2 linked regions of the Homo sapiens genome follow. The protein of the gene in region 2 interacts with the protein of the main gene of each other region in a biochemical or structural test. Each region holds a gene or a part of one and is shown on either strand. Other genes may lie near its edges. The genes, in order: RNF152 and TSPAN12.

The links.
Region 1: the proteins of TSPAN12 (region 2) and RNF152 form a complex in vitro, tested with the Homo sapiens proteins (one study listed by BioGRID).

What each region holds. Positions count from the first base shown.
Region 1 is NC_000018.10:61,886,104-61,903,065, forward strand, and holds the start of RNF152 (E3 ubiquitin-protein ligase RNF152), read right to left. Parts: upstream 6,905-16,962; 5' UTR 6,692-6,904; intron 1-6,691. UniProt on the Homo sapiens protein: E3 ubiquitin-protein ligase that acts as a negative regulator of mTORC1 signaling by mediating ubiquitination of RagA/RRAGA and RHEB.
Region 2 is NC_000007.14:120,842,381-120,858,733, reverse strand, and holds the start of TSPAN12 (tetraspanin-12), read left to right. Parts: upstream 1-589; 5' UTR 590-914; intron 915-1,525; exon of another isoform or gene 1,526-1,899; intron 1,900-1,900; 5' UTR 1,901-1,970; coding exon 1,971-2,036; intron 2,037-16,353. UniProt on the Homo sapiens protein: Regulator of cell surface receptor signal transduction. Plays a central role in retinal vascularization by regulating norrin (NDP) signal transduction.

The sequences.
Region 1 (16,962 bases), on a different chromosome or scaffold from region 2:
CACCTCCCAAACATTGGTATACGTACTGCAGCCTGGTCATTCTAATTTGATTCAACATTTAATCATTATTAATGCAAGTAGGGGAAGCTCTTAAAAATAAGTTTCTATCTTCTTAACTTCCTTTAAGACTTCAAGCTAAAAGGGTCTAAAATTCCTTTAAATCACTGTAAGTCAAAATCGTTTTCTGTGTTGTCAAAGAGTCACCAATGATTTGTTTATTGAGCCCTTCCTGTGTACAAACACGGTGGCAAACACACAATGGTGTAAAGCCTCATCCAGTCATCTTTAAGGAGCTTGCAAGAGAACTGAGATCTCTTTGAGTGCCTATACAACCAATCTGTTTTTCACTTTCAATACAGTATTCAATAAACTACATGAGATATTTGATGCTTTAATACAAAATAGGCTTTTTGTTACATGATTTTGCCCCCATTGTAGGCTAATTGCAGGTCACAACTGCTACATCAGCCAGCCACAGGCCCCCTTGGAAGGAACTGTGCCCCCAACCCTCTCCTGCACTAAGCAGGTCCAGGGTGAATGATAACTGGAAGGGTCCCATTCACTGGAACTCTTGGGAAATGTGGCTTGATGACAAGACATCCTGGGACATCTCTTCAATTCACCTCCCTTTATGCAAACAAGCTTGAGTGAATTTCTATTCTTTGCAATTAAACAGAAAGAAAAAGACACTTCAATCGTAGGTGATAATACAAGACAATCTATGACAAGTGGCCTTTGTAGAATGAATGAATGAATGTTGAATGAAATGAGAGATGGAGGCAATTTTGCCAGAGAACTTTGGATTATAAAGAATTTCTAAAGGCTAATGTGATCAAGTTAAATTTTTCAGAAGAGTTGAGAGCTGAACTGAGGCTTCGATGATAGGATAGAGGCAGAGGAAGGAAGAGGACATTTTAGGCCACAGAATGTGCTAGAATAAGAAAGAGGCAATGAAAAACATTTTGGGCAACAGTGGATTAACCATCCCAGCTAATGTTCAGTTTTAAAGTCAGGCGGAGCAAAAGTCGAGGTTGGAAAGGAAGTTTGGGGTCAACCTGGGGAAAACTTGAAAAGCAAAACTGAAGAATATGAGCTTCCTCCCACAAGGGCAACTAAAAGTTATTAAGTGAGGGGATGAAGGATTAATTGGCCTAATGGTCTAAGAGTGACAGCATTTTCCAAACTGGAGTGGGGTGGGAAAGCCAGAAAGTGAGCAAGACCATTGTCATAGCCCAGAGAGAAACAAGGTTCTTGACTAAGATGCGGCAGTGGCAACTGTCACTAAGTGAATCTGTCAAGGAGCAGAAACAGCAATAGTAAGAAGAATGCTCCTGGCTAGGTGCGGTGGCTCACGCCTGTAATTCCAGCATTTTGGGAGCCCAAGGCGGGTGGATCACGAGGTCAGGAGTTCAAGACCAGCCTGGCCAACATGATGAAACCCTGTCTCTACTAAAAATAGAAAAAATTATCCCAGTAATCCCAGCTACTCGAGAGGCTGAGGCAGGAGAATAGTTTGAACCCAGGAGGCAGAGGTTACAGTGAGCTGAGATCATGCCCCACTGCACTCCAGCCTGGGTGACAGAGTGAGACTCCATCTCAAAAAAAAAAAAAAAAAAAAGAATGCTCCCTATTTCTACAGTATCTGTCAAAGCTTTTACCAAAATCTCTTCAATTCTTGTCAAACCTCAGTGAGGAGTGCACCAAGTGTGATTATCTGGATGTCTAGATCAGAACTGAGCCGGGAAAGTTACACTTCCTTGGTAGGTGGGAATGCGATAGTGGCAGGGGAGAGGAGGTTGTAGAAAGAGAAAATACAAGCACAGAACACAGCATTTGGAGATTCTACTTCCTCATAACTTTGCTCCCACCAGCAGCACATCTTCATTTGCTCAGCCCCTCCTTTGCATGAAAGGCAGGTAACCAGGAAGTCTATGTGATGTTTGAGTAAGTTTCATCATGCAGGATGTTTGCAATGAGTTTTATTTATGCAGGCATTAGTATATCAAGGGGTAAATAAGGCATCCTCTCCACTCCTAGGCGATCACAAGCAGCCCCCTCACAACTCCACGAAGAACGTAGTCCAGGCCTTAGCAGCCAAACGTGATCTAGGCCAAGAAATCATGGACATCAAGAACCACCCAAAGGAGATGCAGGTCACAGATACACTATTTGAGGTCTCCCTCTTTAAATCCTACAATGACAGTGAGTCAATTAGAAATTGAAAATCCCTAAGCATGTAACAAGCACAGACGGTTCCCTACTTACAACTGTTTGACCTATGACCTTTGATTTTTTGACTTTACAATGGTGTGAAAACAATACACATTCAGTAGAAACCGTACTTTGAGTGCCTATACGACCAATCTGTTTTTCACTTTCAATACAGTATTCAATAAACTACATGAGATATTTGATGCTTTAATACAAAATAGGCTTCTTGTTACATGATTTTGCCCCCATTGTAGGCTAATGCGCATTTCTGGGCACAGTTAAGGCAGACAAGGCTGAGCTATGATGTCAGTAGGTGTATTAAATGCATTTTCCACTTACAATATTTTTAACTTATGAGGGGTTTATGAGGATATAACCCCACTGTAAATTAAGAAGCATCTCTACCAACTTTATCCCAATTGTGATTTCAATCATGGAGTCAGACTGCTGGATCACACAGTGTAACTCTCGAAGCCATGGGAAAAGAAGCAGGAAAACCAACACCTTCTTCCTTTCCGGTTTCCATGACGTCACAATGGGCAGTGCCAGAAACCACTTTCATGCCACAAGAGTCCTCTACCTGACCAGCCGACTTGGGTATGAAATTAAAGTGGTAGGGACCCAGAGGCCAGAGAAAATATAGAAATGCATTTTGGGGCTTCCCAAATATAGTTCAAGACTAGTCCCTCGGGGCTTTCATTTTCCTTCTCCCTCAGTCTGTGCCTGGCCCTCAGCCCAACCCCAGGCACCCTGAATGGGTTTTTGGATGGTCTATATCTGGTTCTTCCTGCTGGTCTCCAAGCTGCTCATCTCCCAATTCAGAAACGCTTTGGGTGCTACATCTTATCACTTGAATGAAGCCGGGTGGTCTCAACCTCCCTAGGTTGATACTGATATCCCCTCAGTCACTGTGACTTGGAGACTAACATAGTTTACCACACCACTTCCTTATTTGGAGAGCTATCTTTATAAAAATGACTTTGCCAAGGTGATTACTGAACCAAAAGCAATATTATTTTGTTAAATTCTACACTTATGCTTAAGGTATTTATCAAATCTTTAAAATGGCTCACCCGTGCATGCCGTTATCACAATGTGAACAAAGATATATGAGTGAACAGCTCTTCCCAAAGCAAAATCTCTGCAAGCCACCAACTGCTGAATCCAGAGCACCTTGCAATGCCTATTCCATAGCATCCAACTCTTTTTAGGGAGAGTGAGGCAAGGAAGGCTTTAGAACTCACCACCCTCCTAGTCAATACAGTTGCTGATGGAAGCACAAATGTCCCTAAACTCTCTGGGTGTTCTACTAGTCCTGTGACCAGAAAAAGCCTCTTGCCCAAATTGCTTTTTCTAAACATCAAAGTAACAAAAGGGTGACCCAAGGTTACCCTAAACACATTCCTGCCCCCTTCAGATCTTATCTGTTGCCCTGTGGTCTCTGCTGCAGGAGGCCACCTCCTGGGTGGCCCTAGGCCCATTGCCACTCTTTTTCTACCCTGGGCGGTTCCAAACAAACTCAGGAAGCCTTAAACAAGAGGCAGATGGTGAGGAAGAGAAAGTCTGTAAGTAACACCTCTCTATTACATAATGCTAAGCTCACAACCTCCTAGAATCAGCCTTGAAAATACCTAATGGCCTTTCACTTCAGAGTAAACATGCACTTGAAATAGGCAAAGAGAGGATTATAATTATTTTATTTGATGACCAGTGTACAACCATGTTAGTAAATACCATATCAACATATTAGTAGTACATTACAGGTGGGGGTAGGACCATATATTAGTAAATTACAGGTTGGAATAGTAAATATACAGGTTGTAAATTACAGGTTGTTGATTCAATCAATACTCTTGTGACATCCAATACCCACCAAGCACTGAGCTAGGTCCCATAGGACACACTTTCTAACCTCACCTAGACCAGATCCCTGTGGAAGTCACTAGTGCTACTCACCCATATCCACTTCTCCCTTTTTCAGCACAAGAAATATTGAATTGTGATTAAATAGGGTCATATGCCCAGTTCTGGCCAAAGTGATGGAACTCACCTCTGGGTAGGATCACATAATTGCTAGAGCAAGACCCTGCAGCATTTCCTTCCCGATGCTGCAATGATCTTGCAAGCTCACATCAAGACCAAGACTCCATCAGTTTGAGTCCTTGAGTGACTACGATGAGCAGGGTCCACCTGCCAACCACACTGGATGCAGCATGGGAAGGAAAGAAACTGTATTTAGCTATGGAGACTTGGAGGTATTTGTTACTGCAGCATAACCTCACCTATCTTGCTGGTACGTCACTGTTTAAAAAAGAGAAAAATCTGCAAAAGCATCCCATCAATCTGTTTTCTAAATCAGATAATATGGAAAAGCAACATTTGTTTCAAAATTCAACTTCATCAGGAACTGAACACTACCTTGAAAAGCAGAGGGTGCTGACAGCATAGGTGGGTTCAAACAACTCTGAGGGAATTAGAAATGAAAACAGAATGACCCTCAACAATGTAAGGACCGAACTGTATGGAATTCAGCTAAAAAGACTACAATGAAAATGCCACCTTCTGACAACAGCAACAGCCATTTATGAAGCAGTGAGCTCCTCAATGAAAGAGGCATTAAAGTTGAGGCTGGATGACCATATTTTCTCTCCCCAGAAGTCCAATCCTACCTCTCTTGAGCTTCCATTGAAGTTAATTAGAATCAGGTCTTCCTATAGGGAGTTCAATTTTGTGTCTCCCCCTACACCCAACCCCAACCCCTTGAGTCCATTATCTATCACAGAGTCCATTATCTATCAGGTGCCAATAAACATCTGCTAAATGAATAAATGAGCATTGTAGAAAGGAAGCAGGCATTGGAGGCAGAGATCAGCCTAATAGCCTCTAGGGATCCTCCAGCCTAAAGCTAAACACATCTGAGGGTGGGGAGCCTCCTTCTTATATAAAAAAAATTAAGCATCAATGGACACTTTATTATGATTTATTACTGTACACAATTTAAAACCACAATGAAACCTAACACTGCACTGTGGCTATCTTTGTTCTTGGACGTGCATTTACATGGGCAGGCTACTGTTTTGCCATGTGGAATTTTGTGTGCGAAGTGTTTATTCTTTCTATTAAAAAAAAAACCACACCCTTGTTTCTATTGCATTATTACATTCCCTATTATCCCATCACATGTTTTTTCTTCTTGCAGCAACACAGTACACACCCTGTACTATTGCTGACATAAAAATTACTTGTCAAAAATACCTCTATCTTAGCACCACATTACTCATCTGATCTTTGCAAAGCACTGGCCTTTGTTTCACCTGGGACTAGATAACTCAACTGCTTTTACTAGTGACTCCTGAATGCTTGTAGTAGAAGGATAAATGCTAGTGTCACCTATGTTTTTAAAGTCACCTTCCAAAACAAAACTACATTGGAGGTGAATAATAAATCTTTCAAGTTTTTAACTTCATTTTTCAAGGGATTTGGAGGAAAATGGTGAAGAGAGAATCTGTCACAGATACCAAGGTGTTACTGCAATGTAAAAGAGAGTAGACCAGGAGCCTTTGGCCCTCAGCAATCTGTCTTCCTACAAGAAAAATCGAAAGCCCATTTCCATAACCATTCTTATTCCCTGCTACTAGTGTAGGATGCGCAGGACTCTGCCCTCTAGCAGAAAATGCTAATGCCGGAGTGTCCTGCTAAGTCTGAAGGTTACGTTTTTTCATTGCACTCTTATCAAGATAACCCCAGATCTGGCTAGGCTGACATCAAAACAGAACTATCCTTGGAAAGAAAAGAACAGGCCAGAGTTTTTGGAAAAGCCCCAATAACCTAAAGATAAAATCCAGAATGAGAGTCTACTGGTTCATGGCTATCTAAATGGAAACTTCACTCAAGCTGTTTTCTCTGTTCTCTTTCTGCTGCCCCCAACAGCCCTCCCTTCCACCTCCCAGTACTCACTGCTAGCATGTCTCTCTTAATATTGCAAACACTATTACAATGAAGGAACAGAAGAAAGACAGTATTTCATACGAAGGTCACTGCATTTGACCGGTGCTCAATTAGAGCACTGGGCAAAAGTACAATCAGCCTTCCAATGATACCTTTTCAACAAAGGATACCCCACCTCTAGACTGAAGCCTAAATCTATTACTACAGATAAGAAAGCAGGCATCTATGGAAACCTAACATTCAGATACAACTGCCTGTGTATGAATTATATCAAAATTCCCATGAAAGGAAACCAGGTGGGATTTCTACAATCCCAAATTCACCCTGCACCTACCTCCAATGGCTTCTTCAAAGGGAAGGTATAAAGTCATTTGCAATTTATTTCTTTGAACCAGGAGTTTTAGCAGCCCCCACACCTTCTCACAGATAGGAACGATGTTGATGCAGAAACCACCCAAACAGCCCTGTGCCAGCACTGTCGGCCCAAATGACCCAGAGACACCCAGGCGCTACCCAGATCGTGGGGGGTTACCTGTATCTGTCACCGAGTCTCTTTCACCCCTTCTGCGTGATGACATCAAGTGGAAATGGTACACGTTTAGGAGGCAAGAGGCTGACAGGCAGGAAACACAATTGAGACTGAGCTTTCTTCAGCCTGCAGTGAAATACATGCAGGAAGGGTTAGATACGCGCCGCGGAGAAGGAAATCCAAGCGCCCTCCTGGGCAGACGGGGCTGGAGCGGGTGCACTAGGGAGGTGGAGCAAGGCAGATGAGGTGTGGAGGGCTGGCGGCCGAGAAGGGGGCGTCACGGCTCCTAATTGTCTCTACAGGATAAATAACCACCTCCCCCCTCCTCCGCAGTCTCCCCCGCCCACGAGTTCCCCTCTGGTGGCAGAGCGCCTACTAGCAACAGTAAGCCCTAGGAAAGAAAGAAATCGGAGCAGGTGGGGAATAACATCTTGGGGCAAAGACACACTGGCAAAATCTACCAGGTAACCCGGTCATATGGGAATGCGGGGCGCCTAGTCAGCCGCGCAGACAGGCACACAGCGCGGCAATCCCGAGCATCTTTCTTTCGTTTGCCCCTGTCCGCCACCTCATCAAGTCACCGCCACCTCATCAAGTCACCGTCACCTCATCAAGTCACCGTCACTCTGCTTTGGCGATTTCTCTACTCTCTCCAGACCCAGGCAGCGCTCCCCAAGCCATGCCCCGACCCCAGGCGGGATTGGGGACCGCCGCTTCCCGAGCAGCGCCCCACGAGTCCAGCTGGCTTTGTCCTGCCGCTGTCCTTCCAGGAGCAAGCGCCCCAGGCGCGTGTGTCTGCACAAAAGACCCCCAACATCTGGCCCTTCACAGCGCTCTCTAATCCCGGGAGGGGCCCTGGGGCAACTTCTAGGGCTGGAGAAGGCGCGAGACAAGGGGACCGGGAGAAGATGAGCCGGGGTGTGTGCGGGCCGGGGGCGCAACTGGGGCGGGCGCGCGCGCACGTGCACACCCAGGGGCGCGCGCGGCGCGGGCACGAGGAAAGCTCCCTCGGACCGGAGCTCCAGGGGGCATCCGAGGACTCGGCCGAGCAGCCGACAGCGCCGCTCCCCGCCGCGGCCGCCCGCCCAACTCCGCCAGCTCTCAGGAGACACGCAACTCCCGGGACCACCTCCCCCGTGCCCCGCCAGACCCCGCGCTCCCCTCCCCGGGACCCTGCGGCCCCGCCACCCCCTCCGCGGTCCAGAAGATCTCCCCAGTTACAGCAGGCGGCAGCTGCCCTTTCCCGCTTCCACGGCTTCGGCGCGGCCGCCGTAGGGGCGCAGACATCCCTGCGCACCCCTCTGTCCGCCCCCGATCCGGAGCCGGCAGAGCAGAGAAACAAACCGAAACTCACTGACCTTTCTCCGCGGCGGGCTCGGGTGCTCGCTACAGAGGCGGCGGCGGCGGCGACAGCATCGCCGGGTGGTCCCGGCGCGCCCGCTCCTTTCAGCCAGACTCGCGCCCCGGGCCGGCGGCCGCCGCTCCTCCGGCCGAGAGCCACGGGGCGGACGCTGACAGCGCGGCGGCGGCGCCTGCAGCCCCAGCACCCGGCCCGGCCCTTCGGGCGGCACCCCCACCTGCCCGGCCGCCCTCCGCGTTCGCGGTCGGACACCGCCGCCAGGCGCTCGGCACCGAGCGAGAGCTTTTTGTGTCACTGAGACTCCGGCACCAAAGGGGGTGGGGGGAGAGGCTGGGCTCCGCTCCCCGCGGCACCGCCCTCCCCGGCGGCTCCACCCCCTCCTCCCCGCCCACAGCCCGGCGGGCCCGGGACTTCTCTCCGTCAGTCCCGAATCGCCCACCTCCCCCGGGGTGAGGGGCTGCCTACCCTCTCTCGCGCGCTCCCTCGGCTTTGCCCCCAGTGCCTACCCTCGGCCAGGACCTCGACGCCGTCTCTCTACCGTGCAAAAGCGGGACCTGAGCTGGCGGCAGGTGTGAAAGGAGGCCTGGGCAGCCGGGAGGAGGGGCAGGGCCGGGAAGGGGGCCGGGGCCGCGGTGGGTGGGTTGGGGGGTGCCCAGTCTGTGCCTAGGACCCGGACAGCGAGAGGGAGGAGCTGAGATCATCAGGTTTCCAGAAGCTGCCCTGCATCCTCGTCACCGGATACTTTTTGGCTGCCCCTAAAAGTTCACGTAGTCCAGCCAGGGTGGGGCCCCGCTTTCCAAAGAGGCCCGAATGGACACCCCACTACTTGAATCCCTCGAATGGGGGACAAGAAGCAGGGGAGTAAAGAGATGCAAGTCCTAGGGGTTATATGGAAGCGCGAACCCCACGGAACCTCGGGGCCCACCCTATTCCACACCTTAAAACCTAACTTCGACCTAGGGAGGTGCTTAGAATGTCTTGTTCCCCGGAGAAAATCTCCCGCCTCTTGAGTTAACTGCGAAATAGGAGAATGGAGGAGAAAGGTCCTTGGTAGAAGATAGTTCCATGCCCTTTGGTGCCTTTTTAAAGGATTTCTCTGCAGCATGAAAACCTAAAACTCTCTTCTTGAGATGAAGTTCAGCCTGCGGACGTTACCCGGTCCCCAGCAGCAGGGCTCAGTTGAGTGTGATCCCCACGGATTCCAGCGGCACTTGCTGCCTTTCCCCACTGCTGGAGTGGAGCCGTCTTTGTCTTAAGGTCCGTAGTATCCGCAAGGAAAGAGTCCCCATTTTCACTCCCCCAAGTAGCTTATTGAAATGCTTCTGCCAAGATTTCTTTTTTTACTTTTTCTGTTTTTTTTTTTTTGAAGATGGACTCTCGCTCTGTCACCCAGGCTGGAGTGCAGTGGCGCGATCTCAGCTCACTGAAACCTCCAACTTCCGGGTTCAAGCGATTCTCCTGCCTCAGCCTTCCAAGTAGCTGGGATTACAGGCCCGCACCACCACGTCCTGCTAATTTTTGTATTTTTGGTAGAGATGGGGTTTCGCCATGTTGGCCAGGCTGGTCTCGAACTCCTGACCTCAGGTGATCCGCCCGCCTCGGCCTCCCAAAGTGCTGGGATTGCAGGCATGAGCCACCGCGCCTTTTTTTTTTTTTTTTTTTTTTTTTTTTTTTTTTTTTAGAGGAAGCCCTGTGAGCCAGTGGGGACTCTAGGTAACCTACTATAAAACTCACAATGTACTGAGAGCACTCTTGTCATGTCCCACAATTACGACCTGTTGATGGGGTTTCCAAAAGTGCTGTCCTTAAGCACATACATAAAACTGGTCATCTAGAAACAGATAAAGCTTCATGGGTATCAGTTGTCCCTGGGATCCCAATTAAAACGTTGCCTCCTATGGTCATCTGACTGATCCTTATCCCTTTGTTCACCCAAGCTAAAACCTCCTTCGTACACCTGAAAAGAGTAAAAGCTGTATCCATGTTTTAGAAGCCTAAGGTAATCCTGAAGTAGAAGACTTCAAGAGTCTTTATTTTAAGCCCCAACTTCAGGGCAGGAAGGAGAATTTTTTTTTTTTTTTTTTTTTTTTTGAGACAGGGTCTCACTGTGTTGCCCAGGCTGGAGTGTAGTGGCCAAAATCCTGGCTCACCACAACCTCAATCTCCCAGGCTCAAGCATCCCCCTGCCTCAGCCTCCCAAGTAGCTGGGAGACTTCAGGAGTGCCACCATGCCCAGTTAATTTTTGTATTTTTTTATTTTTGTAGAGATAGGGGTCTCTCTTTGTTGCTCTGGTTTGGTCTTGATCCTGGCCTCAAGTGATCTTCCTGCCTCAGCCTCCCAAAGTGCTGGAATTGCAGGCGTAAGCCACCAAGCCCAGCTCCAGAAATTCACTTTAAGGAGAAGTTAATGAGGGTCTTGAAAACTCTGATGTTGGCAAGGAGTTGGAATAAGGAAGATGAGTTATAACATCCCAAATTTTACTAGGAAAGTTCAGCCTAGAAATGTTATGATTATACAAGAATGACTTTAAAGACTACTCTTCAGAAGCTAATTTCAGGGATCAGTAATTGTTCCAAAATTTTTCAACTCTTTTATTCAGCTGCTTTTGGAACTATTGTTTGGGGGATTCAAGCATTCAACTCGATGTGGAATAACCACCCCCATCCTGACTCTTTCACTTCCACTGGCTGGGATTTTAATTCACAGAGCATCATGGGTGTTCTGCCTTCTGTCCAGTCTTGTAAAGCTGTCACACAGAGAAGGTTAATTAACTAGGGCAGACTGGGATAGGCCAGTTCTTAAGGCTGGTCGTAGGCCAGCACTGGGGCGGGCAAAAACAGTTTGAGTCAGAGGAAGAACAGGCAACAACACGTCCCAGCAGAGTCTTCGGTGAGAAATTCCAGGATCAAGGCTGTTAGGACCAGGTAGTGTTTAGAGCTGCAAGCCAGCAAGCAGCATGGTCAGAGAATCTGGCATTGCCCTGGAGACTGGGCACTGCCCATGTGTGGGAGAGAGAGAGGGAATCAAGGCTGAATCCCAGGTCTTGAAGGACTAGGGCTGTCAGGATGGGACCCCAGCACTGGGGACTGAGATAAAGATCCAAATATTCATGAATTCATACAACAAATATTCATTGAGTATGGACTATGTACTGGGAACCTGGTCCTAGGGTTAGGATAGAGAAAACGCCCCCAAATTCCTGCCCTCACAGAACTTACATTCTAATGGAGGAATCAGACAATACCAAAAATATTGATGAAAAGAGTTGAACTCTGTAAAATATTTGAAGAGATTTATTCTGAGCCAAATATGAGTGACCATGGCCCATGACACAGCCCTCAGGAGGTCCCGAGAACATGTGCCCAAGGTGGTCAGGGTACAGCTTGGTTTTATACATTTTAGGGAGGCATGAGACACCAATCAGATACATTTAAGAAATACTGGTCCAGAAAGGCGGAACAACTCAAAGCAGGGGCTTCCAGGCTATAGGTGAATTTAAACATTTTCTGGTTGACAATTGGTTGAGTTTGTCTAAAGACCTGAAATAGAAAGGGAATGTTCAGGTTAAGATCAAGATTATGGAGACCAAAGTTCTTTTGAAATCTTATAGCGGCTGCCCTTAGAGACAGTAGGTGACAAATGTTTCCTATTCAGATCTTAGTTAATCTCTTTAGGATTGAGAGCGTCTGGAAGAAAAATATCTAGCTATGTTAATAGAGATTCTTTACAGATGCCAATTTTCCTCCACAAAGAACAGCTTTGCAGAGTCATTTCAAAATATGGAAAGAAACATGTTTTGGGGTAAAATATTTTGATATTCTTTTTTGCCTTATAATGTTATGCCAGAGTCAGGTTGGAAAGTAAATCATGATATATAGGGTTAAATAAAACCCATCTGATGAGAATTTATGATTTGTAGGGCATGACTCCCCAGACCCCTTAGATAGGAATTTGGGCAAGATGAAAAAAAAAAAATCAGAGTTTAGTCCCATGATAAATAAATAAATCGTATGTTGGAGAGTGAAAAAGGTAAGGGAGAAAACAAAGTGGGGGCCGGGCGCGGTGGCTCACGCCTGTAATCCCAGCACTTTGGGAGGCCGAGGCGGGCGGATCACGAGGTCAGGAGATCGAGACCATCCCGGCTAACACGGTGAAACCCCGTCTCTACTAAAAATACAAAAAATTAGCCGGGCGAGGTGGCGGGCGCCTGCAGTCCCAGCTACTCGGGAGGCTGAGGCGGGAGAATGGCGTGAACCCGGGAGGCGGAGCTTGCAGTGAGCGGAGCTCACACCACTGCACTCCAGCCTGGGCGACAGAGCGAGACTCTGTCTCAAAAAAAAAAAAAAAGAAAAGAAAAAAGAAAAAAAAAGAATAGAAAAAAGAAAAAGAAAAAGAAAAAGTGGGGGTGGGGCATTATGAAGTCTGTGTGTTGGGGGGGAAATTTTAGATCAGTGGCCAGGGAGGGCCTCCCTGAGGAGGCATTTTCTGAGCTGAAAACTGCAGGAAGAAAAGCACAGTGTCATGCCAGTAAATAGGGAAAGCCTGTTGCCATCATCAGAGGGAACAAGTGGGGGGTGTCTGCACTTCCCCGCGGGCAAAGGTCGAGATGCTGGAACTGGGTTACAGGGACAGTCAGATCTATAACATTGATTGATGCTGAGTCACCTGAGGTTGTATTAGAGTTGCTTACATTGGGGCAGGGATGAGTTCTTCATCTTTGTACCTGCAGCATGGAGCACAGGTGCCCAATAAATGTTTATTGAGCTGAGCCCTTAAATCTCCCAGAACCTGGCATGGAGCTGAGATTAATGTGATCCCATAATACCCAGGGCAGCCCTTCTGTCGGGGATGACACTTTCACAAAAGAATGTGATGATCTCTTCAGTCGCTTTTCATTACTGTCTTCCTGATCTGGGAGGGCAGAGATCATCTTTCAACTTGTATCCTCAGCACCTAACACGCTAAGAAGAAGGCGGACAGTGGGGCAAGAAGGCAGAGAGAGAGAGAAATCGGGAGGAGGAAACAAGCAAACCCTATTCAGTGCTTGATTATCACTACAGATCCTAATCCAGTCCAATACTGAGAGTGACTTTTCTACTCAACGTGTTTGAATTTTACATGTTAAAATTGCACCTTGAAACTGAATTAGGGTGGTAGTTGCACAACCCAGTAAATCTACTAAAAATCATTGAATTCTACACTTAACACGAGTGGATTTTATGGTATGTAAATTATACCTCAATAAACTGTTTAAAAGCATTGAAGTGGGATCCCATGTTTAGACAATTTTCACAAGCTGTCAATAATAAGCCACAAAGTCGTCTTTAACCGAACACGTTATCATCCTTCCTAATAGATGTTTAAAATTTGCAGACCAAATTGATCTGCCAATTTACTTTTCCCTTATGTGATATTAGCCACCTTAAAGTATATATAGTCTTAAAAAGTCTAAGAAGTCTTAAAGTTAGGCCAGGCATGGTGGCTCACACCTGTAATCCTATCACATTGGGAGGCCAAGGCAGGTGGATCACCTGAGACCAGGAGTTCGAGACCAGCCTGGCCAACATGGTAAAACCCCGTCTCTACTGAAAATGTAAAAATTAGCCAGGTGTGGTGGCATGTGCCTGTAATCCCAGCTACCAGGGAGGCTGAGGCAGGAGAATGGCTGGAACCTGGGAGGCTAAGGCTGCAGTGAGCCGAGATCACACCACTGCACTCCAGCCTGGGCAACAGAGCGAGACTCCATCTCAAAAAAAAAAAAAACAAAAAAAAGTCTTAAAGTTTATTTAGCCTCAAAAAGTTTACTAGTAATGATTGCTTAATATAGTGCACACTTCAAAACTGTTCTTATTTTGGGGCCCTATATAAACCAATCCCACAGACTTCTTATTCTGGTAAGATGTTCTGGATGCAAAAGGTATTAATTTGACATATTGTCTAATCTCTTTCCTATTTAGAGCCCAGTGCTACTTAGGACAATGAAACTTCATCTAGAACAAAATACTGAAGTATTTTGGAAACCTCAAAAGATTTGAATAGGAAATAATCCAAATTGCTTTTCTAAAAGTAGTGGTGGATTGAACAAAGCCATCTCTATTTTCTTTCTTTCTTTTTTTTTTTTTTTTTTTTGGGTTTTGAGATGGAGTCTCCCTCTGTCGCCCAGGCTGGAGTGCAGTGGCGCAATCTTGGCCTTCTGGGTTCAAGCAATTCTCCTGCCTTAGCTTCCTGAGTAGCTGGGATTACAGGCATGTGCCACGACGCCGGGCTAATTTTTGTGTTTTTAATAGAGATGGGGTTTCACCAGTTGACCAGGCTGGTCTCGAACTCCTGACCTCAAGTGACCCACCCACCTCAAGTGATCCTAAAGTGCTAGGATTACAGGCGTGAGTCAACACACCCCGCCTCTCTATTTTTTTAACCTCATCTTCGATATGCACAACACACATTCCAAAACAGTTGGCTAGAATGATGTGACCATTGCCAAGGGCGATGGTCGGTCACCATGCAACATGTTTAACAACCTGCAGGCGCAGACCTCCACCTATCATTTTGGGCAATGACCATACACAATCAGTATGGCCTTTATGGTGTGTGTCCTGGCTAAACATCAGCTCAGACTATGATGCCAAAGTCCTCTGGACACCCTCCTAAGCAGCAGGTATCTGCTGTGTTCTTATCATGTTTGTGCAGTTCGGGGTTGAGTAAGATCCTCACATCCACTAGCAAATTGCTGGTGTCTTTGCTATAAGTACGATAGAGGAGAATCATCATACACTGAGCTCCATTCCTTGTACAATCAACACAAGACAGTGTTCGCCCTCCCTAATGGATTGGAGTGACCACATGTGATCAGCCAGGGAAGGGTTGGATGTGGAGCTCCCCTCTCACCCCACTGTCTGCCACCTCCACCATCTGTCCTACTCACCTTCCCTCCAGGTCACCTTCTGTCACCCATGCGGTTCCAACTGTCCTCCTTATCTTTCCTTTCCATTGGCTATCAGGTTCCTGGCATCCACTTGGCCCCTCCCCTCCTGCTGCTCCAGCTGCCAGATCATGGAATGGTGCCACTTTGAGAAAGGAGAAAAGGAACAAAAGAGCCAGGAGGTCCCACCACTGTTTTTTGAGACCCCCAAGTCTGAATCCAATGTCTTGCCCTCTGCTGGTCTGCAGAATCTGGCTCCAGTTTCTCCAGGATCTATTCTTCTGTAATCCACCTGCACCTCATCCAAGTGGACCTAGCACCCCTGTACCTGCCCCAGGTCCAGACCTAGCTTCACGCAGTTCTTCCTCCCCACTGTCTCTGCTTTCAGCCACTGCGCCTGCCCTCATCATTCAAACTCAAGGAATCCAAACGTCTGTTTCTGCTGCACCTGGATCTAGGGGCTCAAGTCAGTCCACCCTCTAGTGGTCAAGAAGAGAAGTGGCAGCCTCTGCACATCAGCCAGGTCAGACCTTGAGGAGGTCAGCACAGGGAAATGCCAAGTAAGACGTGTCTCCACAAACCCACCTCCTCTGATTCTAACTGCAGTGTTTCTCCTCTGCTGTTCCTTCCCTGCCTTCCCAGTGGGTGAAGTGTGCTGGGAGAGGGCATGGAGTAAAGACCCCTTGCTCATTTCTCAACCCTTTTCCTTCTATCTCCACAACTCCTTAAATGTTCACAGCAGATTTGATTGTTTTAAAGGACACAAATTATTCTGCTACAGGACAAGGGAACTTCAGGATAGCAACCATATCCAAAATTAATAGATTACTATAATTTCTTTTTTATTGGCAAACATTTATTGAGTGTATGTACCAGATTGTGTGTGTGTTTCCATACGTGTCCTTGCAAGAACACTAGAAGTAATATGATTATCCTCACGTTACAGATGAGAAAACAAATGCCTAGAGAATTTAAGCATCTTTCCCAATATGATGTAACCAGTAAATGGTGAACGTGGACTTGACTCAGGTCTGCCGAACCCAAAGCTATTTCCCCTAATTGCTGCACTGCTTCCTCCCATAGACCAAAGTATACAGGCAATTGCACTTGATTTGCCTTAAAATGCATCTCAGTCTCTTCCAAGCCATTCCTATTTTAGCTCAGGGTGCCTGACACTGCGGCTCACAGTACTTTAGGACCCCATATCTCCCCCATGATTTCAAGTCAATCTGCTCCTCCTTATCCTCACTCTCACAGCTCCTTTGTACCTTTCCTTATGCAGCAGCGCAACCCACATTTGTACTTGTCAATCCCAAAAGATACAGTAATTTCAAAGTTTCTGGGGCATTTATGTCTCTGCCTCTCACCTTGACCTTCTCCCCTTCAAAGCTCACTCAAATTTCCCCAACCAGATTCATTTTTACCTTCTTTGCACTCTTATAACACATTGTTTGTTGTTTTATTTTGCACTTGCATTCTGCTTTATCTCATAGTTAGCTGTTCACACATTTGTAATGGTCAGTAGATCCTGAGCTGTTATTTTTCCATCTCATCCACCCATGCACACCCACACCCCACAGCATCATGCAGAATAAAGTGTTCATGCTCTGCATGCATTCAGTGCTTAATAAATGTTCATTTAAAATGGTCCGGGCACAGTGGCTCCTGCCTGTAATCCCAGCACTTTGGGAGGCAGAGGTAGGTGGACCACCTAAGGTCAGGAGTTCAAGACCAGCCTGGCCAACATATAAAAATACGCAAATTAGCTGGGTGTGGTGTTGAGTGCCTATAATCCCAGCTACTTGGGAGGCTGAGGTGGGAGCATCACTTGAGCCCGGGAGGTAGAGGTTGCAGTGAGCCGAGATCACGTCACTGCACTCTAGCCTGGGGAAGAGAGTGAGACTCCGTCGTAAAAAAAAAAAAAAAAAAAAAAAAAGTTCATTTAAAAATGACCAGTCAGTACTTTCTATTTTCTCTTCCAGAGTCATGTT
Region 2 (16,353 bases):
CCACTACTATGTACACATTTCAAAATAAATCACCCAGTTAACTCAAAACAATCTTATCGTGAGAAATTTTGGAAAGCTTGAGTTACTTCTAAGAGTTAAAAATGTTCTTTCCTCCTCTTCTGCATGTCAGACTGCACATGATTACTCTGATGTTTCCGTAAATGCTATTAGTGCACTATGAAAGTGGGAAAGAACTTAAAAAAAAAAAAATCCGGGAGGGCAACAAAGCAATAAGAAGGATCATAGGGCACCATGTTAATAACAAATCACAGGAGGTGGCTCCATAAAGGTTGTGAAAACTAGTTTCTCATTGCAGGAATTGGGTTGGGCCACCCCTTCACCCCCCTTCTCAAACACAAATATTATCATATAATAAAAGCCTGCTTCTCTATGCTTATAACCCAGCCTCCATTCCTTCGACGCCACCATTTTAAAGGGATTTACTGCACGGACTTCTCCCAAGTTCCTAGGCATTATCTTCTGGACCCTATCCTGCAGAGGTGAAGCGTCCCTTTGGGGACTCTCGCTGGGTGAGAGGGACAAGAAACACCCACTAGGACCCAACCCCGGCAGCCAGCGGCTCGAGCATGCGCTGAGAGTTTGTGCAGCTGGCCCTGGCTGCCGCCGCTGCCTCGTCCGGACTCGGAGAGGACTTGGGAGGGACAGCGGCGCTGGGAGGTGGCTTAGCAGAGACTTTCCAGCAACTGCTGCCCAGGACTTTTTTTTTTTTTTTTCTTTTTCCCAGGAGGCGGCGACGGCGGCGGCGGGGGGAGAGGAAGAGAAAGAAGCGTCTCCAGCTGAAGCCAATGCAGCCCTCCGGCTCTCCGCGAAGAAGTTCCCTGCCCCGATGAGCCCCCGCCGTGCGTCCCCGACTATCCCCAGGCGGGCGTGGGGCACCGGGCCCAGCGCCGACGGTAAGTGGCCACGCGTCTGTCGCCTTTCCTGCCCGCTGTCCCGCCAGCCCGCCGGCGGCTGCCCTCCGCGCTGTGTGCTAAACTACTTAAGGGCTGGCTCTGGGGCTCCCTGCCGCCGGCGCTTCCCCTCGCGCCCTGCCGGGGGCGCGCGGACGCGATGGCTGGGTCGGTGGCCGCGCTCGCTTTGTGCTCCGCGGGCGGCTTTGAGCGAGGGGTCGCGGGAGCGTCCCGGGCGGGGGAAGCGGGGTTTGAATGACTAACCCGGCGTCTGCACAGCTGCATCGGCCCTAATTCCCCGGCGCCCCCCGCCCCCCGCCCACTGTCCCAGGCTAATCCATCATTCTGGGGCCGAAAACATCATTTCTCACGTTCTCCCAGAGAAACCCTAGTAGCCGGGCGGAATCTCAACTCCGCGCTGCCCCCTCGCCCCCGCCCCCGCCCCCGCCCCGCCGCCCCAGTCCCTTGCATTCACACCCGAGCTGCGGGACGGGGTAGAGGGGTGCGGAGTTGGAGTGCCCAGGAACTGTCCTAACTAGAAGGGCGCTCATTCTCTCGGGCTTGCCGGTGGCGCCTCTGACGTGTCCGGGGTAGGGGGCAGTGTGGTTTCTCACCTTCAGGACAGTGCCGAGCACAGCTGTCCTCGAGGAGGGGCGTGGAGTGAGGGAGGTTTTCAAGAGCGTCTCATCAGAATGCACAGGGCTCCGCCGCGTGTCCCCTGAGAACGCGAGTTTACTGTGCGACTTCATTCATCCGGATAGTTGCTCTTTTCTTTTCCCAGCAGGTGTTATCTGAAGCCGGTTTGGAACTTTTGGGAGTTTAGTTACCATTATGATTTTAACAAATGATTTTTGATGAGGCGATGTCTCGAATGCACTGGGCCTCGGGACCCTCTGGACCCTGCTGAGGGCGGGTGGAGGAGGGACGGGCAGGCTGTGGGAAGCGTGATGGTGAGATGTCCCGTGTTCTCTCTCCCCCGCCCCCTGCAGATCGCTGCCGTTTTGCCCTTGGGAGTAGGATGTGGTGAAAGGATGGGGCTTCTCCCTTACGGGGCTCACAATGGCCAGAGAAGATTCCGTGAAGTGTCTGCGCTGCCTGCTCTACGCCCTCAATCTGCTCTTTTGGGTAAGTAAGTTTCACTGCACCAACAGGTGGGAACGGCTGGCTCTGGTTTTCTGCAGCCACCGGATAATGCGCCAAAGGGCATGGCTAAGCATTAATTAATTACATGGGATAACACCCTTTATTTTTCAGAGAAGTAAAATTTGACCTTCTTAAAATGCCTTTGATCTAGCTCAAGTTCCATTTGTAATTAGAACAAAGAAATCCACCCCTGGATACTACTGGCAGTAAAATTAGACTTGAAGTTAATCTAGGGATATAAATAAATGCACGTGCTTCTACTCATAGATAAGAAAATTATGACATACTACTTAGGGAACTGCTTGTTTGCGGGAATTTTAGATAATTGTGCAAGCCATAAATTGTTTCTTTACATCTCTGTCGCCTGTAAAATCTAGTTGGGCCAAGTCTTAATATATTTTTTGTGGGCGGGGACGAGGGGGAGGTGGTGGTGGAATTCACACCCAGATAACCTATCACAGAAAGGCTGAGTAGATTTGTCTAGGGGATTCCATACGGTCTGAAGGGTGATTTTTATGTAACTAATTCTAAGTTGGCAAAGTTTAAGGAATTGTGTGTATGCTTTTGGAAAATCCCATAACCATTTAAGGAAATAAAATACATAAAATGTAACAAGCTCATGGAAATCTTTATGCCCTATGAGTTAATGACTTTTTATGCTTTAAATCTTAATAAAGTATGATTAATAATCGTATTATTACTTATAAAACTTAGGAAAATGTAACAATTTAAACAGTAAATGTTGCTTCAGGAGGCTGCCATTCTTAAGCAAATTGTTCTTTCCATTTTTTTGTGTTCTATTAATAATTTTATTCAAAATTTTCTGTTACAAATTTTATTGTGCAATTTATTTATGTGGCTGACTGGCTGGCGTGCTGACTGGCTGGCATTGCCCAGCCTTTTTTTCATAGGGCTATTACATGTGGTCTCTAGAAGATGACATTTAGGTTGAACTGCACCTTATAGATGGCCCCATTTTAAAGGATAAATTAAGTCTTACTTCAGTGAGTAATCTGAAAATATCTAAAATGGCAGCATTCCTTTTCTCAACATTAAAGCATTAATTTCTCAAAATTAAAGCATTGGGTAGTTAAATTCACCATTTGGAAATGTAAAATCACAAGTTGATCTTATTGTAGTTTATACTTCTTAAAAGCTTGATTTTTAAGTGAATCATTAAATTACCTGGATCATTAAAAGTTATTAAGAGTTTAAACTCCATTTCTTTAAGATGTATGATAATTATCACTCCTGTTTACTAGTTTTTCACTTTTCTACATTGTGCTTTTTAATTATAGAATCATCACATTCCACTTCTAAAAGGAGCTTTAAAGATGGCCTGGTTGAACGTCCTTCCTTTGTGAGTGAGGAAATTAAGTGCAGATTAAGTGACTTGCCAAAGATCAGATAGTCCAATGGTGGCAGTGCCAGGAACAGAATTCAGCTTTCTTGCCCCTAGACAGTGTCTTTCACTTGACCCTTACTGAGTTTTGAACCTTAGAATTACTAAGATTGTTGTTGTTGTTGTTTAATAAAGAATAAAGCTTTGAAAAATTTGTTAATACTTTACATTGTGTGGGAAAAAAGAACCAAATCATTCAACAAAAATATCACTCCTCTTGGAAATGAAATTTGCATAAAAGCACCTATTCCTGAAACTCTTCCAGGGCTCTTTGTGTCCCCAGAGAATGTAAACGTTATTTCTTTGTTGTTACCCTGTACTTAAACCTTCTAACTTTCTATGTTTGTGTGTGGTGTGTGTGTGTGAGTGTGTTCTGGTTTATTGACTTATTTAGATTGCTTCCCTATTTCTCCAGCCCTCCTCTTCTCCCAATATCACCTACGCTTCAACAAAATAATCCAGGTTAAGCATCTTGTATACGTTTTTCTTTATTTTGTTTCATACAAAGATAGATTTACTCATACCTGTCCACAACAGATACACAATGCTATACATGTAAATTCTTGATTTTTTTGCTGTTAAATTAGTTTCTCATTTGGGTTAGAGTCATAGGAGTGGAATTGCTATGTAAAAAAGTATGTGATAACAACAACAAAAACAAAAGTAGCCAACCTATCTAACTAACATACAAAATAGCTAACGCTTCTTACTATGTTTGCCAGGCACATTTAGTGTCTGTTTCCTAGCCTGTAAAATAGGAATCATAGTTCCCTATCTTTTAGAGTTGTGAGGAGGATTAGAGTTAACATATATACAGCGCTGAGAACAGTGGCACATAATAAGTGCTATCTCTGCAATAGCAGTATTGCAGTTATTACTATAACTACTACAATGATGATGATGTTCTAGCAGATTACCAGGAGGTGGATTGCTACTATCATTATGGTACTAATCATAGTAATTGTTACTGTTATGATTAATACTGCTACTATTGCTACCACTACTGCAATTCCTTTGACCCAACAATCTTGTTCTGGGTATCTGTTCCCTAGAAATAAAAGCAGTAATTACCCCATTATATGTACAAAAATATTTGTTGCCATCTTGTTGGTAATATGGCACTTCTAAATCTTTGCCAATCTGAAACATTTAAAGTATTATCTCATTGTTACTTTATTTTGTACCTACCCTACTACCAGTGAGCAGGAGCATCATTTTATGTATATTTTTCATATACATCATTTCATTTCATATTCATTAACTATTTCATATTTATCATTTAGGTTTGCCCTATATTTTAAGTGTTAATTTCATTTATGTTATCTGTTTCTATACAATAGTTAAACAAACTTTTCTATATTCTGTGTAATATAACTTTCTTTTCTTTTCTTTTTTTTTTTTTTTTGGGACGGAGTCTCACTCTGTCACCAGGCTGCAGTCCAGTGGCGCAATCTCAGCTCACTGCAACCTCCACCTCCCGGGTTCAGGCGATTCTCCTGCCTCAGCCTCCTGAGTAGCTGGGACTACAGGTGTGCACCACCATGCCCAGCTAATTTTTGTATTTTTTAGTAGAGATGGGGTTTCATCATATTGGCCAGGCTAGTCTCGAACTCCTGACCTCATGATCCACCCACCTCGGCCTCTCAAAGTGCTGGGATTACAGGTGTGAGCCACTGTGCCCGGCCTGTAATATAATTTTCTACAGGATTTTATATGTATAAATACGAATATATTATGTATAAAAATAAATATAAATATATGTCTAAATATAAATATGTGTGTGTATATATATATATATATATATATCTGCATTTCTTGACTTGGTTAAGGTTTGTTTTTAAAAATGTTCTTTAAGATTATTTTATCCAATTAAAAATATCTGTTGAGGCTGGGTGCAGTGGCTCACACCTGTAATGCAAGCACTTTGGGAGGCCAAGGCAGGTGGTTAATGAGGTCAAGAGATTGAGACCATACTGGCCAACATGGTGAAACCCTGTCTCTACTAAAAATACAAAAATTAGCCGGGTGTCGTGGCGTGCACCTGTAATTCCAGCTGCTCAGGAGGCTGAGGTAGGAGAATCACTTGAACCTGGGAGGCAGAGGTTGCAGTTAGCAGAGATTGCCCCACTGCACTACAGGCTGGTGACAGAGTGAGACTCTGTCTCAAATTAAAAAAAAAAAAAAAAATCTGCTGGGATTTTTGTTAGAATAGTATGAAATGTATAATAGGCTAATTTTAGGGAAACTGATTTTACTTCTTCAGTGTTAAGGCAATGTTTGCAGATCCTATCATTACCAAGTCAGAAGGTGTTTTCAGCCTGTGCTGGAGACATTCCTGGCCATTGTTAACATTACTCTCATCTAGTTCTCATAATAGACCCATAAAATAGTTTTCTTTCTTAGTCTCTCTCTCTCTCTCTCTTTTTTTTAGATAAAGAAACTGGTACTCAGTAGTTCAATAACTTGCTAGTAAGTAGCAGAACAGGAATTGAAAGTCCAGTTTTGTTTTTTATCCAAGTGTAGTAGAAGTTAAATTGCTGGAAACAGTGATGGATTTATTTGCATGAGAGAAGTCAAGTAAACATCCTCAGAAGGAAGGGATTAGCTGTCCACCTGCTCATTCCAAGTTCTCTAGAACAGTGCTTCTAAAACCTCAGAGTGCATGCACACCTGGAGATCTTGTTAAAATGCAGATTTGGATTTAGTATGTTGTGCGTTCTATCTGAGAGTGCATTTCTAACAAGCTCCTCTGTGATGCCAATGTTGCTGGTCTGAGTGCCACACCCTGAGGAGCAAGGCTTTAATACTAGCTTTTAGTTCTCATGGGAATTACAAGTAGAACAAACCAGTGTGGCATATGAACCCCACTTCTTAAACCAGACTTTACATTCTGACTATGGAGAGGGAGATTGTTCCTCCCTCTGGGTCTGCAAGATTGACAACCTTGTCCCCATTACCCATGAGGTGAAAAGCTATAGGCTTTTACTCTCCACTGGCATTTTAAGTAGTCTTAGTTTTTTTAAATCTATTTTTACTATATTGGTACCTTCTTACCTTTTCTACCCCACTAGGATTTTAGGGAAAAAAAAATAAATCTTAATCACAAAAACATTGGGAACCCATTCAATTTTGTTTTCCTGTTCTGAGAGTCAAAAATCAAACTGAGAGTTTTTTTTTTAAGTTAAAAAGTATATCTTGAGTACTTTTTAAAAAATGTAAGGCATAGATGTGTTTTTAAGTGTAAGCTATAAATGCGTCTAAGAAGAAACAATCCATAGCACATTCAAGATCACACATGCTCTGCATTCTCTTTATTGTATGGATCCAGTCACCTTGATTTGCCATCTGTAGAGTGTCTTTTCCACATCATGAAGAAGCCAGATTCTAGTACTATTGTACTGGGGTCGGCACAAAAGTATTGGGCCTTCTAGGTTTGTCATGAGTATTGTGGGTCTGTGATGGGAAGGAGCACATAGGAGATGGTGTGGGTAGGTGAACTGCCTGAGGGTTCTTTTGAGACCATGATTCACCTTCTCTCCATGGTGGAGTAAGGACGTGGGTTACCTTTCCTTCAAATTTATACGCTTTTATTACTAGTAAAATTTAAATGGCATATTATTTAAAGAAATGAGAGCTTTCTACCATTTTAAAGACAGTTTCTGTAGCTTTTTGGTCATTTGTATTTCTTAGATGGTAATTTTCTATTATTGCAAATATAGATAAATATGGTTCTCCTTGAAAATTTCTGACATTGGTGAACATTTAAAATTCATCAAATATGTGTTTGTTTCTAATTTTCTAAATGTATAATATAAACTCCCATATCTCACCATTATATAAGAACCATTGTTTTTTACTTACCGTTACTAAAGATAATAGCAATAGAGAAGAACTACCCTGATTAAATATGAAAAGTAACTTATAAAAGAAAGTCTAAAAAAGTAGACAGGAAATTTAGTTTATGCTTTTGAGATATATGCGTGGCAGATGAAATGACAGGAGGCTCAATGCTCTCTTTCTTTTTCTCTGGCCATCCGTAGTGAACCTTAAGTGTTTGATCCACACAGAATCTGAAGAGTTAGATCCTTGGCAAGTAGAAGTTTGAATTCACAGGAAGGACATTTATGAATCATATTAAAATACTACATTTTAAATTGGTGTCCCCAACTTTACGCTATGAATGGTATTCAAGTATTTTTGAACTCTTCCTAAGGAATAGTGGAAAGCCCTCCAACAAATATTTGTGGTCTTTTAAAATAAATTTTCACCATAAAAAATTCCTTTAGTCAGCCGGACGCGGTGTCTCATGCCTGTAATCCCAGCACTTTGGGAGGCCCAGGCAGGTGGATCACCTGAGGTCAGGAGTTCGAGACCAGGCTGACCAAAATGGCGAAACCCTGTCTCTACTAAAAATACAAAAATAAGCTGGGTGTGGTGGCATGCATCTGTAATCCTAGCTACTGGGGGGACTGAGGCAGGAGAACTGCTTGAACCTGGGAGGGGGAGATTGCAGTGAGCCAAGATCGTGTCACTGCACTCCAGTCTGGGCAACAAAGTGAGACTCTATTTCAAAAAAAAAAAAAAATCTTTTAGTCTCAGAGCAAAGCTGATCGACCTTTTTATATATACATTGTGGCTCAGCTGAGCAAAGACTTGAGCCGCTGCATGCTTCTTAAGGAATGTTTTTTGAGAAGTACATGGAAGATTCTTCATAGCACATTCTGCTGCATACTGAGCAATAGGCTCCTCCCTCATTGACTCCACTCAGGGAATAATCCTGAGCTGGGACACTGGGGAAGTGGAGTTTACTGCAGTTAGACTGCACAGAAACTATCATGTAGAATGAGGCATTTTACTCTTCTTCTACTTATAGTGACTTTAGGGTGATCATATACTTTATCATGGCAACTAGGACAATGTGGAGACTGAAGAAAAGGGGATGTTTCTGCTAAGAATTATGCCCAAACAACAGAGGCTTATAGTGGGTCTCTTCTGGTCAGATCAGGATGCATGGTCACCCTATCTATAGGAAAACATGGTGGTCTAGAAAAACTATCGGTCAGAACAGCTCCAGGGTGATACTGATTTATTCAGCTCTAATTAATTGATGTTCATTCTGAAATGATACCCACCAGTAATCTCCAGACTGTATTTCAGCCATCATTTACATTGCCTATTCTTTCACAGCTTTAGCAAATAGTGTTACCTGTTTGCTCTCTTTCCTTCTGCCCTTCCCCTGGTAGAGGGAAGCTGAGAAGGCACAGACTCACAAAAAGGCAAAAGGGAGCAGGCCTGGCAACATGAAACACACGTGTGACTCACCTCGTGTGACCAGCCTCCAAATAATCAAGGCTTGATCTTACTTTTACATTTTAACAAATAGCAATTTAAAGGCTAAGTATGGTGGCTCATGCCTGTAACCTCAGCACTTGGGAGGCCAAGGCAGGAGGATCAGTTGAGCCCAGGAGTTCCAGGTGCAATGAGCTATGATCATGCCTAGGAGACAGAAAAAAACACCAGAAAAATTTAAATTCTTTTTTAAAAGAAGGAAAGCTTCTGGTCCAATTTTCCCATTTTCAAGATTAGCCAATAAAAATTATGAAAGTTTGAATTATTTGTCGAAGTCCTTTTCTATACAGACAAAGCTGTAACTAAGATTCAGGTCTTTTATGTTCCTCTCTTTGCTAACAGGTTTGACATGAAAAGTTTAGGTATGTGGTTTTAGACAGCTGTCATCCTTGAACAGAAATTATTTGTGTCACTGTCATCTTATGTGGGACTATATGTTACAGATGGCAGACAGTTTAAAGATAGAAAGGACTGTTTCTTGACCGTGACCTTACTATTTTATGGAAATTATAGGTACACATTTCATAATACACTTAGGAAATGCGCATACACATACAATTCTGATTCAGAAAACAACTTGATTCAAGACTTGTTTTTATATAATTAGATGCAAGCAAAAGCAGACCATGTCCTCAACACTGCAAATTTTATGTTTCCAAATATTTGTTGAAAGCTAGCACTTTCTAAGTATTTTGCAAGAGACATTGTGACAAATGTCCTGCCAAATAATATATTAAATGTATTTCTATCAAGTAACACTTTGTTTAGTTTTAAAATATCTCCTTGAGCTTCAGGTAACATGTTGCAATACTGGAGAAAGCAAAAGGAGCTATAAAACCTAGCTGCCTGTGATAACTATAATGTTCCTAATAATTTAGCCAATGTGAGTGGCATTTGAAGGATTATTTTCATAGTTACTTTGGAAAATTAGCAGAAAATAACATGTTTAGCAAGGAGTCCTGAATTCCTCACATAAGTTGTGCTTCTAGGTTTAATATCAGGTTTAGTTATTGAGTTGACCTAGTCTCGTTTTAGTTCAGTTTCTTGCTATAGGCATGCACTATATTTGTTTTTATTGTTATCATTTTCTCAAGCCCAGTGAGTAAAGCCTCACTTGTTGAGGATGAAACTGTTCTCAGACATTTAATGTTGCTGGAATCAATTCCTTGAGAAAAAGCCATTTTATTCCCAGGGTTGCTTGTTTACTATAGAGTAAGGCTTGGTGTTATTATTTATTTTGACTAATGTTCTGTGCACAGCTGCAATGTTTGGGTATACTCCTGTGAAAAAAAACATTGGGACAGAGTATAGTGCAAAGTTTTAGTTTAAAGTACTTTTGAGAACACTTTAGCCAGCTTCTAATCTGATATATAAATCTTTGACTTTGTTTTTCAGAAACCATCTTTCTTCTGGAAAACTTCCAGTGATAGAAAGCTCGGTTCTTATTAAAACATCTTCTAATTTGTTTAAAAATCTCTAACAGCTTATCTAGCAGGATGAAACCATCTCCCTTTAATTTAATTATTTTCTCATTCACTCACCTAACCTATATTAGGCACCACTACTGAGCCTGGTACTTTTCTGTGTGATGGGGAGATAGGCCATGTTCTGTGCCCTCTACTGGGATGAGATGGAGGGACAGAAACAAGAACAATAGGATAACTGCTTTATGAGGTATTTGCAAAGAGCATTAAGAGGGAAAAGATCTGTAGGTAAGGCGGGAGTTGGGAGAGAATCTTTACACTGGACTTGATGTTCAAGCTGGGCTTGAAGGAAAAGTAGATGTTGCTCAGCACATGAGAACAGGAAAGCTGGGGCAGGATGGTATTCCAGGCAGAAGGCACTGCAGGAGTGAAGATGTATAGGCACTGGGAGGTGTGCATGGTGCATTTTGGAGATGTGCAAGCAGTTTTGTTGTTTTCCATATATAGAATGTGTCTAGGAAAGAGCTGGCAGGAAGCACGGTTTAAGAAAAAGTTTAAGGGGTAGCTGAAGAGGGCCTGGTGTGCCCTGCTCAAGAGTTTAAACTTTGTTCTCTCAGAGGCAGTTGAGGGAAGACGAAATAAATGGTAGTTGAAGAAGAACCATAAAGGGTAGCTATAAGCAGAAGAACTTGATCTATGTTCTATAAAAGTAACCGAAGGGTGAATTGGAGGTGAAATCTGTGAGCTGAAGAGTTCTATTATAAAGTAATTATAGTTGGATAGCAAAAGAGGATGAAGGCCTGAACTAGCCAGTTGTGGCAGAAAAGGGGGAGGAATTCACCCGACGCCTTGCCAGAACAATTTGAAGGACTTGAGACTAATTAGATATAGAGCTGAGGAAAAGGGAGAGGTTCAGCTTCCCTGCCAAGTCTCTAGTTTACATGATTGAAGGATTGATTATACCATTTACAGGAAAAACAGTGGGAGGGACATACAGGTTTTGGAGGAATGGAGGTAAGTTTAGTGTTAGAGATGTTGAAATTGACCGTGATAGTATGATAGATAGTTATATCCCAGAGTTTCCTTTCTTGTCCATCTGGTAGACCTTCAAACAGCTGAAGATTCCATTTCTGAATTGATTTAGGAATAGTCTAATCTTTCAGACTGACTGAGAAAGATTAAGAGAAAACCCTTAAGTCTAAAGTGACTTGCAGTAATTATAGGTTATGTATATGAGAGTCTCACTCTGGTTTTTTGTTTTTTTTTTTTTTGTCATATAGCTCTTCTATGAAGTAGGACTTATTTTTATATCATTTTACAGGTGAGAAAACTGAGGCATAGGAAAGTTCAAGCTGAATGTCATATAGCTAAAAGGCAGTAGAGCTGGAATTCCTAGCTGAAATTCAAAATTCAGTGGCTTCTCATTGTCATGATGGTGAAGCTGATATACCTTGAAATGGCTTCCAAGACTCCATGCAGTCTCACCCCTGCCTGCTTTTTCCTTCTCACCATGTGCCAATTTTGCTTACCATGTCATGTTGCCTTCCCTCGTGGGGCCTTTGTTCTTTCTGACCAGAAGGTTATTTTCAACCCTCCTTTTCCTGAGTAACTTGATAATTATCCTTTAGATCTTAGCTCTCTTAGAGAAGTTCCTTTGACCCCGTGGAATGGGTCAGGCCCTCCCAAAGGAATTTGTACAGAAACTTGTACTATGTCTTCTCAGCGCTTGTTACAGTTCTGTTACATATTTATATCCCTGATAAGTTGATTAACCTGTGTCCTCTTCACTTAGTTAATTGCACCACAGAGGCAGTGTCTGTTACTGTTCATCAGTGTATCCCTAACACATAGCACAGTGCCTGGCAAAGAGTGGGTGACCAATATATGATTTTTGAATGGAAGAATGACTTCAAAGCCCAGGCTTTTAATCATCCTGCCATATAAGAAATGTCTTGGAATACACCACTTAAAAGATATACACTTTTTTTGTTGTTAAAAATGGAAGACCTATATGTAGTAACTAAACTGATAATGAATTGTACACTATGAAGAATGAAATAATGTTTTGACACGACTAAAAGCTGTGTTACTGAAAACTGGCTAAACAGCCTATAAAGCCAGTATAGAACAGAGAAACCAACAGCAGTCATTACTTTGAAGAGTGATAAAGAGAGGAGTTTTTTATAACTGTAAAATAATTTTAGATAATGAAATAAAATACCACATGATATGGTTTGGATTTGTGTCCCTGCCAAATCTCATGTTGAATGTTGGCTGAGAGGCCTGGTGTGAGGTGACTGGATCATGGGGACGGATTTCCCCCTTGCTGTTCTCATGGTAGAGAGTGAGTTCTCAAGAGATCTGGTTATTTAAAAGTGTGTAGCACCTCCCCCTTCTCTCTCTTACTCCTCCTCTGGCCAGGTAAGATGTGCCTGCTTCCCCTTCCACCATGTTTGAAAGTTTCCTGAGGCCTCCCCAGCCATGCTTCCTGTACATCCTGTGGAACCATAAGCCAATTAAACCTCTGCTCTTTATAAATTACCCAGTTTCAGGTATTACTTTATGGCAATGCTAGAATGGGCTAATACAGAAAATTGGTATCAGGAATGGAGCATTGCTATAAACATACCTGAATATGTGAAAGTGGCTTTGTAACTCAGTAACAGGCAGAAATTTGAACAGTTTGAAAGGCTCAGAAGACAGAAAGATGAGGGAAAGTTTGGAACTTTCTAGAGACTAGTTAAATTGTTGTGATAAAAATGCTGATAGTAATATTGACAAATGAAGTCCAGACTGATGTGGTCTGAGATGAAGATGAGGAACTTACTGAGAACTGGAATAAAGGTCACTCTTGCTATGCTTTAGCAAAGAGACTTGTGGCATTGTTCCCCTGCTTTAGGTATCTGTGGAACTTTGAACTTGAGAGTGATGATTTAGGGTAATCTGGCAGAACAAATTTCTAAGCAGGAAAGTGTTTAAGATTTGGCCTGGTTGATTCTAAAATGTATGGTCATATATGTAAGTAAAGAGATGTTCTAAAACTGGAACTTATATTTAGAAGGAAAGCAGATCATAAAAGTTTAGAAAATTTGCAGCTTGACCATGTGGTAGAAAAGATAAACTAATTTTCCGGAAAGGAATTCAAACTGGCTGCAGAAATTTGCATAAGCAAAGGGGAGCTGAATATTAATATTCAAGACAATGAGGAAAATGCCTCAAAGGCATTTCAGAGACCTTCATAGCAGACCCTCCCATCACAGGCCCGAAAGCCTAGGAGGAAAGAATGGTTTCATGGACTGGGCCCAGGGCCCTGCTGCCCTGCAGAACCTTGGGACACTACTCCCTATGATCCAGCTGCTTCAGCTCCAGCTGTGGCTTAAAGGGGCCCAGGTACATCTCAGGCCACTTTTCCAGAAGATGCAAGCCATTAGCCTAGGCAGCTTCCATGTGGTGTTAAGCCTGTGGGTGCACAGAGGGCAACAGTTAAGACTTGGGAGCCTCTGACTCAATTTCAGAGGATGTATGCAAATGCCTGGATATCCAGGCAAAAGTCTGCTGCAGGGACAGAGCCCTCATGGAGAATCTCTACTAGAGCAGTGCCGAAGGGAAATGTGGGGTTTGAGCCCCCACAAAGAGTCCCCACTAAGGCACTGCCTAGTGGAGCAGTGTGAAGAGGGCCACTCTCCTCCAGACCACAGAATGATAGACCCACTGACGACTTGCATCATGTGCCTGGAGAAGCTTCAGGCACTCAATGGCAGCCTGTGAAAGAAAGCAACCACAGGGACTGTACCCTGCGGAACCACAGGGATAGAGCTGCCCAAAGCCTTGGGGGCCCACCCCTTGCATCAGTTTTGCCTGGATGTGAGACATGGCGTTAAAGGAGATTATTTTGGAGCTTTAAGATTTAATGACTGCCCTGCTGGGTTTGGGACTTGCATGGGGCCTGTAGCCCCTTTGTTTTGGCCAGTTTCTTCCTTTTGGAATGGTACTGTTTAGTGAATGCCTGTACCTCCATTGTATATTGGAAGTAACTAACTGGTTTTGATTTTACAGTCTCATAGGCAGAAGGGACTTGACTTGTCTCAAGTGGGACTTTGGACTGTGGACTTTTGAGTTAATGCTGGAATCAAAGTAAGACTTTGGGGGACTGTTGGAAAGGCATGATGGTATTTTGGAATGTGAAAAGGACATGAGATTTGGGAGGGGCCAGGGGTTGAATGATATGGTTTGGATTAGTGTCCCCACCGAAATCTCATGTCGAATTGTGATCCTCAGTGTTGTGGAAGTGACCTGGTGGGAGGTGATTGGATCATGGAGACGGACTTTCCCCTTGCTGTTCTTCTGGTAGTGAGTGAGTTCTCAAGAGGTCTGGTTGTTTGAAAATGTGTAGCACCTTCCTCTGCTCTCTCTTTCTCCTGCTCTGGCCATGTAAGATGTGCCTGCTTCCCCTCCCACCATGATTGAAAGTTTCCTGAGGCCTCCCCAGCCATGTTTCCTGTACAGCCTGAGGAACCATGAGCCAACTAAACCTCTTTTCTTCATAAATTACCCAGTTTCAGGTATTTATAACAGTGTGAGAATGGACTAATACACCACATTAATAGACTTTTCTGTCCCGGAGATACTTACAAGGTTTTAAGGACCCACATATAGCCAAGTAGAGGGAGAACATGTGCCCACAGATTTCATCAAAGAGCCAACAGTCTTCTGCTAGCTCTGTGTGTTTTAATATGTTCTGCTGTCAATTAGGTATGCCAAGGCCAACAGACCAGGAGATGGCTGCCATTGAGAAGACAGTTTATTATATTCGTAAATCCCAAGACATGGAGTACACATCTCATTATGGGGGGCCAAGAGGGGAAACACTAGGGTCAGTCACAAGGCACAAAGAGAGATGGGAACTGTGGGCAAGTGCTTATACCATGGTTCCTATGGGAAGGTATAGGTGAGGCAGGTAAGTGGGTTTAGGATTGGCCAGTTTGAACAATTGGCCTTGGGGTGATTAGGGCAGGTGTGTAGTGGCCCCTAAGTGGGAGAGCCCCATAAGGGAGGTACTTAGGAGTTTGGATTCTGGATTGCATGGTTTGTATTTGAAAAGTGCACCCCTGGGAGAACATCTCCTCTTGAGGATGGAACAAGCAACGAGGGAGGCAGCAGGCCAAGGCAAGGTGACTCAGGCACATTTTTAGGTTCTCCAGAGCAGGATGTGTCTGGCATATATATGCAGAACAGATGTTAATGCATCAAAAGAAGCTAGAAACATGGCTAATTCACTGCGACTGACTCACTTATAACTTTTATGAGTTTTACAATCTGTTCACTTCTAACAGACATGAGAATAATAATAACTGGCCTAATTCTACTCTTGAATGTGGTCCCAGGGTTCTTAACCTAACTTATAGGCCATTGACTCCTTTGACAGTCTTATAATTTTCAGAATATTAAACTGTATTCTAATTTGTGGATTAAAATACAGATTAATAGTAATATTAATTAACAGTGATTAATTACTAATAGTAATTAATTACTATAATCTGAATTTTATTTCAGATCCATTATTTCAGAAAGGGTTTTTAAATGGTGATGCTCTAGAATGCGTCCTACAAATATTAGCAGAAATTCTTCTATAAAAGATTAATATAATTAATATAATATTACTATTAATCTGTATTTTAATCCACAAAACAAAATGTATTGGCTTACAAAGGAAATTAATTATATCGAAATACATTTGTATTTACAGGTCAAGAACCACTGAGCTCCCATTCACCAAAGAAAATAGTTCAGACATTTAAACTGAACCTGACTTCTGCAGGAGACCCACTGCCCATCTTTCTAAAAAGGAATTCTACATGCTGTGTAGGGTAGTGTTTTTACCCTCTGTGAAACATACCATGCCTGTTTCTCAACTTGGGAGACAGTGACTAACCCTGGCACGTCGAAGCCCAACAGCTTGAATTTGAATCCCAGCTCTTACCTCTCAGGATCTGAGAGACCTTCAGCAGGGTATTTCCCTTTTCTGTGCTTCAGGGCACTTTTTTTTTTTTTTTTTTAACAGTTTGTAATTGTCTTCTTTGTGTAATTATTGCCTGTGTTCCCCAAGAGGTTCCAAGAAGGCCTG